Homo sapiens: one gene and its partners. The protein of the gene in region 1 interacts with the protein of each later gene in a pairwise test. Each region holds a gene or a part of one and is shown in the gene's direction. Other genes may lie near its edges.

What was found. Proteins that work in one complex are often made in the same cells at the same time.
Region 2: the proteins of PLLP (region 1) and HTR2B interact in a two-hybrid assay, tested with the Homo sapiens proteins (one large-scale study listed by BioGRID and IntAct).
Region 3: the proteins of PLLP (region 1) and DRD2 interact in a two-hybrid assay, tested with the Homo sapiens proteins (one large-scale study listed by BioGRID and IntAct).

Annotation. Positions count from the first base shown.
Region 1 is NC_000016.10:57,260,673-57,264,172, reverse strand, and holds part of PLLP (plasmolipin), read left to right. Parts: intron 1-2,102; coding exon 2,103-2,276; intron 2,277-3,500. UniProt on the Homo sapiens protein: Main component of the myelin sheath that plays an important role in myelin membrane biogenesis and myelination. Plays an essential function in apical endocytosis. Regulates epithelial development through the regulation of apical endocytosis.
Region 2 is NC_000002.12:231,108,043-231,111,542, reverse strand, and holds the end of HTR2B (5-hydroxytryptamine receptor 2B), read left to right. Parts: intron 1-2,133; coding exon 2,134-3,026; 3' UTR 3,027-3,313; downstream 3,314-3,500. UniProt on the Homo sapiens protein: G-protein coupled receptor for 5-hydroxytryptamine (serotonin). Also functions as a receptor for various ergot alkaloid derivatives and psychoactive substances.
Region 3 is NC_000011.10:113,409,399-113,412,898, reverse strand, and holds the end of DRD2 (D(2) dopamine receptor), read left to right. Parts: intron 1-15; coding exon 16-343; intron 344-1,978; coding exon 1,979-2,172; 3' UTR 2,173-3,294; downstream 3,295-3,500. UniProt on the Homo sapiens protein: Dopamine receptor whose activity is mediated by G proteins which inhibit adenylyl cyclase. Positively regulates postnatal regression of retinal hyaloid vessels via suppression of VEGFR2/KDR activity, downstream of OPN5.

The DNA of each region.
Region 1 (3,500 bases):
GTAGGGATCCACACAGGAGCTTCCCTTCTGGTCCTCGACGAGGTTGCTTTTGGATGGGGTGCCTGGCAGGCACCCCAGCTCTGTCTGTGCTCTAGGCCCAGGCCCTCAGGTGCTCTAGGGGCTGGCGGCAGCCCCTCAGCTGCTGGGAGCAGCCAGGACTTTCTGTCTCCAAACCCTAGCAGCCAGAGGCAGGTCCTGCTCCGGAGCCGCTTCTCTGATCCCACTGACTTGTCCTTGGGCTGGTGGCAAGGTCACTACGCAGCCTTGGTGCCATGTACCTGGGCGCTGACCAGGGGAAAAAGAGGACACCTCTGTGTGTCTTGATTGGCAATGGAGCCTTTCTCCAAAGCTAGACCCTCGTGTCCTCTCCGTGGCCAGGGATTCCAGAGAGTGCCCTCGTGGAGAAGGCGCTCTCCAGAGCATCTCCACCAGCAAGGGGTGGGTGGGGGTAGGAGGGGCTGGGGAGGCCCAGGATGGCCACATCCGAGGTGCCTCTGGGGGCCTCCACGAGCTCCCTGGGCCCTGCCTCAGCTGGCCCTTTGCTGGCCTGCACCCTGAGACAGTCTGCATAGTGAGTCGACAAACCTGCCGCAGAGAATTCTCTGTGGCTGTGAGGGCTGGGGCCTGTGCAGTCCAGTTCGGGCTTGTGGAATAATAAAAAAACACTTCTGCTGCAATCATTTATGTGCATGAACTTGTGGGTCCTCACAGTAGCTCTACAAGATAGGAATGGTCATTATATGATAAGCAAGGGTGGTTATACACTTGCCCACGGCCACACAGCCGGTAAGGAGAGCCGGGATCGAAGCCAGACAGCTGGGCTCCAGAGTTCATGCTGTTAGCCACTACCCATGCTCTGCTGGGATGGTCAGGCCCATCCTGCCGTGTGGGAACAGCCTGACAGGTAGGCCCCTTGGCTTCCTGGAGGCCCAGTTTCACCTGTGAGATGGCAACACCTGTATAGAAGGGCATCTGGGAGAGCCGGAGACGTGGGGTGTTGGGCAGGAGGTCACCCAGAGGCCCTTGTGACGTTCTCTGCTGGGCCCAGCTGGGAGGGAGGACACAGGGCTGTTGTCTTCCCGCCTCTGGGACTGTGGTGACTTGATCTTCCTTTCAGCAGCTTTTACTGAGCCCCTGGCAGGGCCTAGGGCCTGTGCTGGGTGTGGGGACGTAGCTGTGAGACAGCCACGGCTGTGCCCTCGTGGAGCTCGCAGTCTGGGGAAGGGAACGATTATGGCCCTGGATGGTGGGTGCCTGGGGGGCCCTGTGAGCACTGATGAGGGCTCTGGGATGCCGGCTGGAGGCGTGGGGGTGTCCTGGAGCACCTGACATCTCAGCTGAGACCTGCAAGAGGAGTGAGAGTGCAGGGCAGGGCCCCGGTACAGTGGTGTATCACACGAGCCAAGTCAGCATTCCTTTTTAAATTTTTTTCTATTTTTTGAGACAATTTCACTCTGTCTCTGAGGTTGGCATGCAGTGGCATGATCATAGCTCACTGCAGCTTTTAACTCCTGGGCCCATGTGATCCTCCTGCTTCAGCCTCATGAGTAGCTGGGACCACAGGTGCGCACCACCATACCTGGCTAACTATTATTATTATTATTATTATTTTTGCTTTTTGAGACGGATTTTCACTTTTGTCTCCCAGGCTGGAGTGCAGTGGCGTGATCTCAGCTCACTGCAACCTCTGCCTCCCAGATTCAAGCAATTCTCCTGCCTCAGCCTCCCAAGTAGCTGGGATTACAGGCACACGCCACCATGCCTGGCTAATTTTTGTATTTTTAGTGGAGACAGGGTTTCACCATGTTGGCCAGGCTGGTCTCGAACTCCTGACCTCAGGTGATCTGCCTACCTCAGCCTCCCAAAGTGCTGGGATTACAGACGTGAGCCACTGCGCCCGGCCTTAATTTTTCTGTAGAGATGGGGACTTGCTCTGTTGCCCAGGCTGGTCTTGAACTCCTGGCCTCCAGCGATTATTACACCTTGGGCTCCCAAAGTGCTGACATTACAGGCATGAGCCACTGTGCCTGGCCAGTATTTCTTAGCTAGATAAGAAATGAAACCGCATCTCTGGCCAATCCTGCCTTGTCTGACCCTCCTAGGTGCTGGGGCTGCTGGTGTGGGCGCTGATTGCGGACACCCCGTACCACCTGTATCCGGCCTATGGCTGGGTGATGTTCGTCGCTGTCTTCCTCTGGCTGGTGACAATCGTCCTCTTCAACCTCTACCTGTTTCAGCTGCACATGAAGTTGTACATGGTTCCCTGGCCACTGGTGGTGAGTCTGGGTGGGGGTACTGGAAGTGGCTATGACAGGACCACTGTGACTTTCCCTAGAAGAAGTGGCAGGGTGTGGGGGGGTGGCCTGACATCCTCACTGACCTAAGCTGATCTGCAGAGCCAGGGGTGGAGGTGAGGATTGATGGTTCAGAGGTCCAGTTTTTCTATTTTTCCTTCAAGACAGTGTCTCACTATGTGCAGGCTGGAGTGCAGTGGCTCAATAATGGCTCACTGCAGCCTTGAACCCCTGGGCTCATGTGATCCTCCCATCTCAGCCTCCCCAGTAGCTAGGACTACAGGCACGTGCCACCATGCCCTGCTAATTTTTATTTTTATTTTTTGTAGAAGAGGAGTCTCACTTTATTTCCCAGGCTGGTCTTGAACTCCTGGGCTCAAGCAGTTCTCTCACTTTGGCCTCCCAAAATTCTGGGAGTACAGGAGTGAGCCACCATGCCTAGGTGCACGGTTTTTTGGGGAACCATGAGCCAGGAAGGACACAGGCTTGACTTTGTCCCAGGAGGGGAGTAGAAGTGAGGGGCTGTTGAGTGGATTTGTAAGAGGCCATTTGGAATCTTAAAAATATTTTTCCCGGCCGGGTGTGGTGGCTCACGCCTGTAATCCCAGCACTTTGGGAGGCTGAGGTGAGTGGATCACCTGAGGTCAGGAGTTTGAGACCAGCCTGACCAATATGGTGAAACCCTGTCTCTACAAAAAATACAACAATTAGCAAAATACAACAATTAGCCAGGTGTGGTGGCGCGCGCCTCTAGTCCCAGCTACTTGGGAGGCTGAGACAGGAGAATTGCTTGAACCCAGGAGGCGGAGATTGCAGTGAGCCGAGATCACACCATTATACTCCAGCCTGGGTGACAGAGCAAGACTCCACCTCAAAAAAAAAATTTCCCTCTGGGGGTGGTCAGAATTTGTGCCTGTGTTGTGTGAGTTTGTGAGATTGTAGCTTGGCCCAGGTAGGCAGCCCTGTGGCTGGAGGCTGTGGCAAGCTGTCAGAAGTTGCCCAGGCCAGGGCCTCAAGTGTGCAGGACAAGCTCGGGCACCTGGCTGCCTGCAGGTGAGGCCCTGAGGCCTGGGAGAGGCTGGGCTCCCCAGGTTTGCCCCAGGACAGTCTCCCCAGGACACAGGGCTGAGAGCGGACATGGGAAGTACCCCGGCCAGACACACAGAAAGCTGCTGGTTTTTTTTTTCCTCTGACCCGGAAAACCCC
Region 2 (3,500 bases), on another chromosome or scaffold:
GGTAATACCTGGCAACAGAAAGTATAATAATATAACAGGGTAAGGGCATAAAAAGTACCAGTGAAAACTTTTACAGTTATTGACCAACAAGCTGGATAGGAAAGTAGTGTGAGTCCTGATATTAACAGAATGTAAAAACTGAGATGAATGAAGTCTCATTAATAGAATGAGTTAATAGAATGTGAAAACTGAGATGAATGAATGAACTAGAGATAAAAATAACAGGAAACAGAAGTTCTCTAGGAGTGAGGGGTAGCAGGACAAGGAAGGGAAGTATTAGAGTTCATAATCTTAGGGATTGTTCTAAGTAGACTTGTAGATGGCTTTAGTGCAAATAATAATAATTAGAGTCAAAGAGTTCAAGAAATATAAAATTAAGGTCTTAGAAGGGTCACGAATGGGATGAAGTAGAAAATGCTGGCACTGGAACAGTGGAGAGAAGACTATAGCAGGTACTGAAGCCATTGATGAAGATGAACAAATGTCATGGAGGTTAACAGAAAAGCAAGATGGAGAAGAAAGTATTAAGTAGATAAAATAAACTTCAAAAGGCAAGTGTTTTGGGGGAGAAATAAACAGTGGAATGGTGATCTGAAAGTAACAGGGTAAAGCAGGGGTCAGCAAACTTTTTCTATAAAGGGTAAGACAGCAAATATTTTGGGCTTGCAGGGCGTATATGGTTTCTGTCACAGCTCCTCCATTCTGCTGCAGTAGAACAAAAGCAGCCACAGACAATATGTTACTAACAAATGGGAGTGGCAGTATGCCAATAAAACTTTTACAAAAATAGAATGTGGGCCAATGGTCCTCAAACTGTAGTATAATGACCCCTGGTGTAGAACAAGTATACAGAATCCTCTTTCTGGTGGTGTACATGAGGAAAAGTAGAGAAAGTAATGACCTCTGTTAGAAAGGGTTTGAGGAACATATTCTTGTCAATGGCTCTTTAGCTACCATAAAAAGGGTGTGTAGATGAGGGGTGCTCTTGGATTCACAAAACAACACAAGGATTCCAGAGGTTTCTAAAGATCAATTAATTCAGACATTTAAAAAATATCTGCTGTTTCAAAGGAAAAAGATTCAGGTTAACCCCTGTATTATTTGTCTTTCTAATAAGCTACTTCACTAAGAAACATCATATTTAAATACTTCATGGTATTTAAAGATCAGAAAACTAACATGAGGTATATTTCTTTCCCAGGTCATAAAAGAACTTTTTTTTTGAGACAGAGTCTTACTTTGTCGCTGAGCGTGGAGGGCAGTGGTGTGATCTCGGCTCACTGCAACCTCGGCCTCCTGGGTTCAAGTGATTCTCCCACCTTAGCCTCCTGAGTAGCTGGGAGTACAGGCGCGTGCCACCATGCCTGGCTAATTTTCATATTTTTAGTAGAGATGGGGTTTCGCCATGTTGGCCAGGCTTGTCTCAAACTCCTGACCTCAAGTAATCCACCCCCACTTGGCCTCCCAAAGTGCTGGAATTACAGGCATGAGCGCCACTGTGCCCAGGCTTCTACAGAAGAAGAAAGATTAAGAACTCATAATCTTTCAACATCATGATTCACACACACTCAAATTTTAAGTAGCACTTTTTAATGAACTTTAGTTTTCCCTAAGAAGTTAGATGGAAAGGATTAAAAGACATTCACACATATCAAAAGGAAAAACTGTTAAATGAAACTGTAACCTCAAAGACAAAACTGAGTAAAGATATTGAATAAATGTACTCTGAAGTGCCTCTAGATCAACTACACTGGATAATAAGAAAAAAGCAGGTTCTCTTCTGAATTTCTCTTCCTTAATCTGAGATAGCTTAAAAAACAAAAATAGATTATGAGAAATGTAGAATAAATGAAGACATTCTCCACTGTATCATGGATATACTATAGCTTTAGGGGAGCTTTCATTATAAATCTGAAATTACTAACCAATCTCCGTTTAAAAACAGATTTGCTCACTTAGGTTCTGTTTGTCAAATCTTCACTGATGAATGCTTCGACAAATCCTGCATTGTGGGTCCCAGGAATTATAATGCACCAACAAGCATAAAGTTATAAGGATACAATCCAAAAGGATCTAATCGAAGAGTTACAGGTCATAAAATGACTCAATTTATCTTGTTTTCCTCTTCCTTAGGCATTGCCATTCCAGTCCCTATTAAAGGGATAGAGACTGATGTGGACAACCCAAACAATATCACTTGTGTGCTGACAAAGGAACGTTTTGGCGATTTCATGCTCTTTGGCTCACTGGCTGCCTTCTTCACACCTCTTGCAATTATGATTGTCACCTACTTTCTCACTATCCATGCTTTACAGAAGAAGGCTTACTTAGTCAAAAACAAGCCACCTCAACGCCTAACATGGTTGACTGTGTCTACAGTTTTCCAAAGGGATGAAACACCTTGCTCGTCACCGGAAAAGGTGGCAATGCTGGATGGTTCTCGAAAGGACAAGGCTCTGCCCAACTCAGGTGATGAAACACTTATGCGAAGAACATCCACAATTGGGAAAAAGTCAGTGCAGACCATTTCCAACGAACAGAGAGCCTCAAAGGTCCTAGGGATTGTGTTTTTCCTCTTTTTGCTTATGTGGTGTCCCTTCTTTATTACAAATATAACTTTAGTTTTATGTGATTCCTGTAACCAAACTACTCTCCAAATGCTCCTGGAGATATTTGTGTGGATAGGCTATGTTTCCTCAGGAGTGAATCCTTTGGTCTACACCCTCTTCAATAAGACATTTCGGGATGCATTTGGCCGATATATCACCTGCAATTACCGGGCCACAAAGTCAGTAAAAACTCTCAGAAAACGCTCCAGTAAGATCTACTTCCGGAATCCAATGGCAGAGAACTCTAAGTTTTTCAAGAAACATGGAATTCGAAATGGGATTAACCCTGCCATGTACCAGAGTCCAATGAGGCTCCGAAGTTCAACCATTCAGTCTTCATCAATCATTCTACTAGATACGCTTCTCCTCACTGAAAATGAAGGTGACAAAACTGAAGAGCAAGTTAGTTATGTATAGCAGAACTGGCAGTTGTCATCAAACATAATGATGAGTAAGATGATGAATGAGATGTAAATGTGCCAAGAATATATTATATAAAGAATTTTATGTCATATATCAAATCATCTCTTTAACCTAAGATGTAAGTATTAAGAATATCTAATTTTCCTAATTTGGACAAGATTATTCCATGAGGAAAATAATTTTATATAGCTACAAATGAAAACAATCCAGCACTCTGGTTAAATTTTAAGGTATTCGAATGAAATAAAGTCAAATCAATAAATTTCAGGCTTTAAAAAGAACCACTGTCATCATAAAATTTATTTGGTTTCTAATTATATGCAAAGTTGTGCTAAGAATGAAATAAAACAAAACAAACATTAGCCTTGCCTTCCAGGTCTTAAAAGCATAAGGCATGATACAGAACAAAAGGAACACAGAGCTAAAAATAAGTGCACAAAACAGTGATCACATCTGGAGGTGAGTTAA
Region 3 (3,500 bases), on another chromosome or scaffold:
CTGCCTCTGGTGCAGGAGGCTGCCCGGCGAGCCCAGGAGCTGGAGATGGAGATGCTCTCCAGCACCAGCCCACCCGAGAGGACCCGGTACAGCCCCATCCCACCCAGCCACCACCAGCTGACTCTCCCCGACCCGTCCCACCATGGTCTCCACAGCACTCCCGACAGCCCCGCCAAACCAGAGAAGAATGGGCATGCCAAAGACCACCCCAAGATTGCCAAGATCTTTGAGATCCAGACCATGCCCAATGGCAAAACCCGGACCTCCCTCAAGACCATGAGCCGTAGGAAGCTCTCCCAGCAGAAGGAGAAGAAAGCCACTCAGATGCTCGCCATTGTTCTCGGTGAGTCGGCCCTGGCTGCTGGCCACAGCCCGGTCTGTGAAAGGTCCCATTCCCTGCCATGTCCTTCCTAACCATGGCTGCAGGATCATGGGGCTAGCATTTCCTCAGGCACAGGCCAAGCCCATTGACATACAGACAGCCCTATTAGGTAGATTCTGTAATTGTGCTCACTTTACAGATGGGCAAACAGAGTTTTAGAGTGGTTATAAAACCTGACCAAGAGGACCCATGGTTTGAACTCAGGCAGTCTGACTCCAGAGTCTGGAAATTTGACTAGTCTATTATGCTGGCACCAGAACCTCATGGGCCTATGTGCCCAGGAAAGTCACTTTCTCTCTCTAGGCTCCTCATCTGTAGAGTAGGTTACTTCTCAGGGCTGTCATGGCAATCAGTTGGTGAAAGCATTTTCTAAACTACAAAGCACTATCCATATGTAAGTGTCACTATTATGGTTTTTATTACTATTGCTCTTTTTGAGGAATTGGGAAATTCAGTTCACTTGCACTCAAACAAGACTCCATGGGACCAGAGCTGTGAAAAATAAATGAGATGTTGGGGAGTGGCCCCCAATCTAAATGAAAAGCATCCCTGTCCATAAAGCAGGATTTTTCAATAGAAGTCTAGAAAACCACATAGTAAAGGTCAAAACCCAAAAGGTGGACTGATATGGGTGGCTGGGAAAAGGAGGGTCCCCTGTGACTCTGTCTTCCAGGAAGCACCTGAATCCCCTTTGACTGCCGGATGATCCTGGGGCGTGAGTGGGGCAGCTGTTACCTCCCTTCTTTTATGAATGAGAGCACTTGATCCCATGGGACTACTCACGATCATGGGACTGGGATATGGTAGGCTAGGATTGGAGCCAGGCCCTCTGCTGCAGTCCATAGGGGCTCAGCTCTGTGGCCCTACTCTTCCCAGACACCATTCAGTCTCCAGGGATGCCTCCTGTGCCTGTAGGGCATTCCATGTACACATTGCTTCCAGGATAAATATCACACCTGTGCAGGAGGTCCTGGAAAAAGTGCACCTGAGTTAGGTGAGCAGAGCAGGTAGGTGGCTGCCCTGGGTGAGAGGGCATGGTTCAAGGCAGGGACTAGCAAGGGTGTACCCACCAAGACTGGGGAAATTGGGGGAAGGCTAGAGCGAGATCATCTGGGGACCTGGATAGACCGGAGTTCAGCTCTCAGCCTCGCTGCTCAAGAGTGAATGACCTTGGGTATATTGCAGAGCTGTTGTGAGTGTTTTTCTTATGTACCTTATGAGGATGCTATAAGAACTAAGTGGCATGGGTCTATAGCCCTCAAAGATGACCTGGAAGTAGAGTAGATATTTCCATTTCTACTGGCTAACCTGGGTCAGAATGGTAACCTTTTGGATTTATTGTTAAACCATGTACCCTTTTCTAGGAGGTGGGAAAGGGACAAATGAGGGAAGTGAGGCTGAAGGAGCTGAAGGGATACTTCACTGCAAATGGGTGTCAGAGGCAGGTCTAGGATCCAAGACCTGGACTCCTCCTACAGTGCTTCTGTGGCTACAGCCCACCGTCTTGGCATACGAGCCAGGGCGCACTGGGTGTGGGTGTTCCCAGCCGTGCCTCCCCGGCTCTGGGGACCAGCCTGACCATGCCCTCTCCCCCAGGCGTGTTCATCATCTGCTGGCTGCCCTTCTTCATCACACACATCCTGAACATACACTGTGACTGCAACATCCCGCCTGTCCTGTACAGCGCCTTCACGTGGCTGGGCTATGTCAACAGCGCCGTGAACCCCATCATCTACACCACCTTCAACATTGAGTTCCGCAAGGCCTTCCTGAAGATCCTCCACTGCTGACTCTGCTGCCTGCCCGCACAGCAGCCTGCTTCCCACCTCCCTGCCCAGGCCGGCCAGCCTCACCCTTGCGAACCGTGAGCAGGAAGGCCTGGGTGGATCGGCCTCCTCTTCACCCCGGCAGGCCCTGCAGTGTTCGCTTGGCTCCATGCTCCTCACTGCCCGCACACCCTCACTCTGCCAGGGCAGTGCTAGTGAGCTGGGCATGGTACCAGCCCTGGGGCTGGGCCCCCCAGCTCAGGGGCAGCTCATAGAGTCCCCCCTCCCACCTCCAGTCCCCCTATCCTTGGCACCAAAGATGCAGCCGCCTTCCTTGACCTTCCTCTGGGGCTCTAGGGTTGCTGGAGCCTGAGTCAGGGCCCAGAGGCTGAGTTTTCTCTTTGTGGGGCTTGGCGTGGAGCAGGCGGTGGGGAGAGATGGACAGTTCACACCCTGCAAGGCCCACAGGAGGCAAGCAAGCTCTCTTGCCGAGGAGCCAGGCAACTTCAGTCCTGGGAGACCCATGTAAATACCAGACTGCAGGTTGGACCCCAGAGATTCCCAAGCCAAAAACCTTAGCTCCCTCCCGCACCCCGATGTGGACCTCTACTTTCCAGGCTAGTCCGGACCCACCTCACCCCGTTACAGCTCCCCAAGTGGTTTCCACATGCTCTGAGAAGAGGAGCCCTCATCTTGAAGGGCCCAGGAGGGTCTATGGGGAGAGGAACTCCTTGGCCTAGCCCACCCTGCTGCCTTCTGACGGCCCTGCAATGTATCCCTTCTCACAGCACATGCTGGCCAGCCTGGGGCCTGGCAGGGAGGTCAGGCCCTGGAACTCTATCTGGGCCTGGGCTAGGGGACATCAGAGGTTCTTTGAGGGACTGCCTCTGCCACACTCTGACGCAAAACCACTTTCCTTTTCTATTCCTTCTGGCCTTTCCTCTCTCCTGTTTCCCTTCCCTTCCACTGCCTCTGCCTTAGAGGAGCCCACGGCTAAGAGGCTGCTGAAAACCATCTGGCCTGGCCTGGCCCTGCCCTGAGGAAGGAGGGGAAGCTGCAGCTTGGGAGAGCCCCTGGGGCCTAGACTCTGTAACATCACTATCCATGCACCAAACTAATAAAACTTTGACGAGTCACCTTCCAGGACCCCTGGGTAGAAGGCAGCAGTGCCACTTCTGTGCTTGGCATTCAAGTATAGCAAGACCCCTGTGTCTGCAGGGTCTAACCCAAGGGAAGCCAGGTTGCCCCCACTGCTCCACCTCCCCTGTTGCAGCTCCTGCTTCCTCTGAAGGACTCATCCTTTGCCCTCTTACCCACCAGGGCAGAGAAGGCTCTGTGGAAAAGGTGGCCTT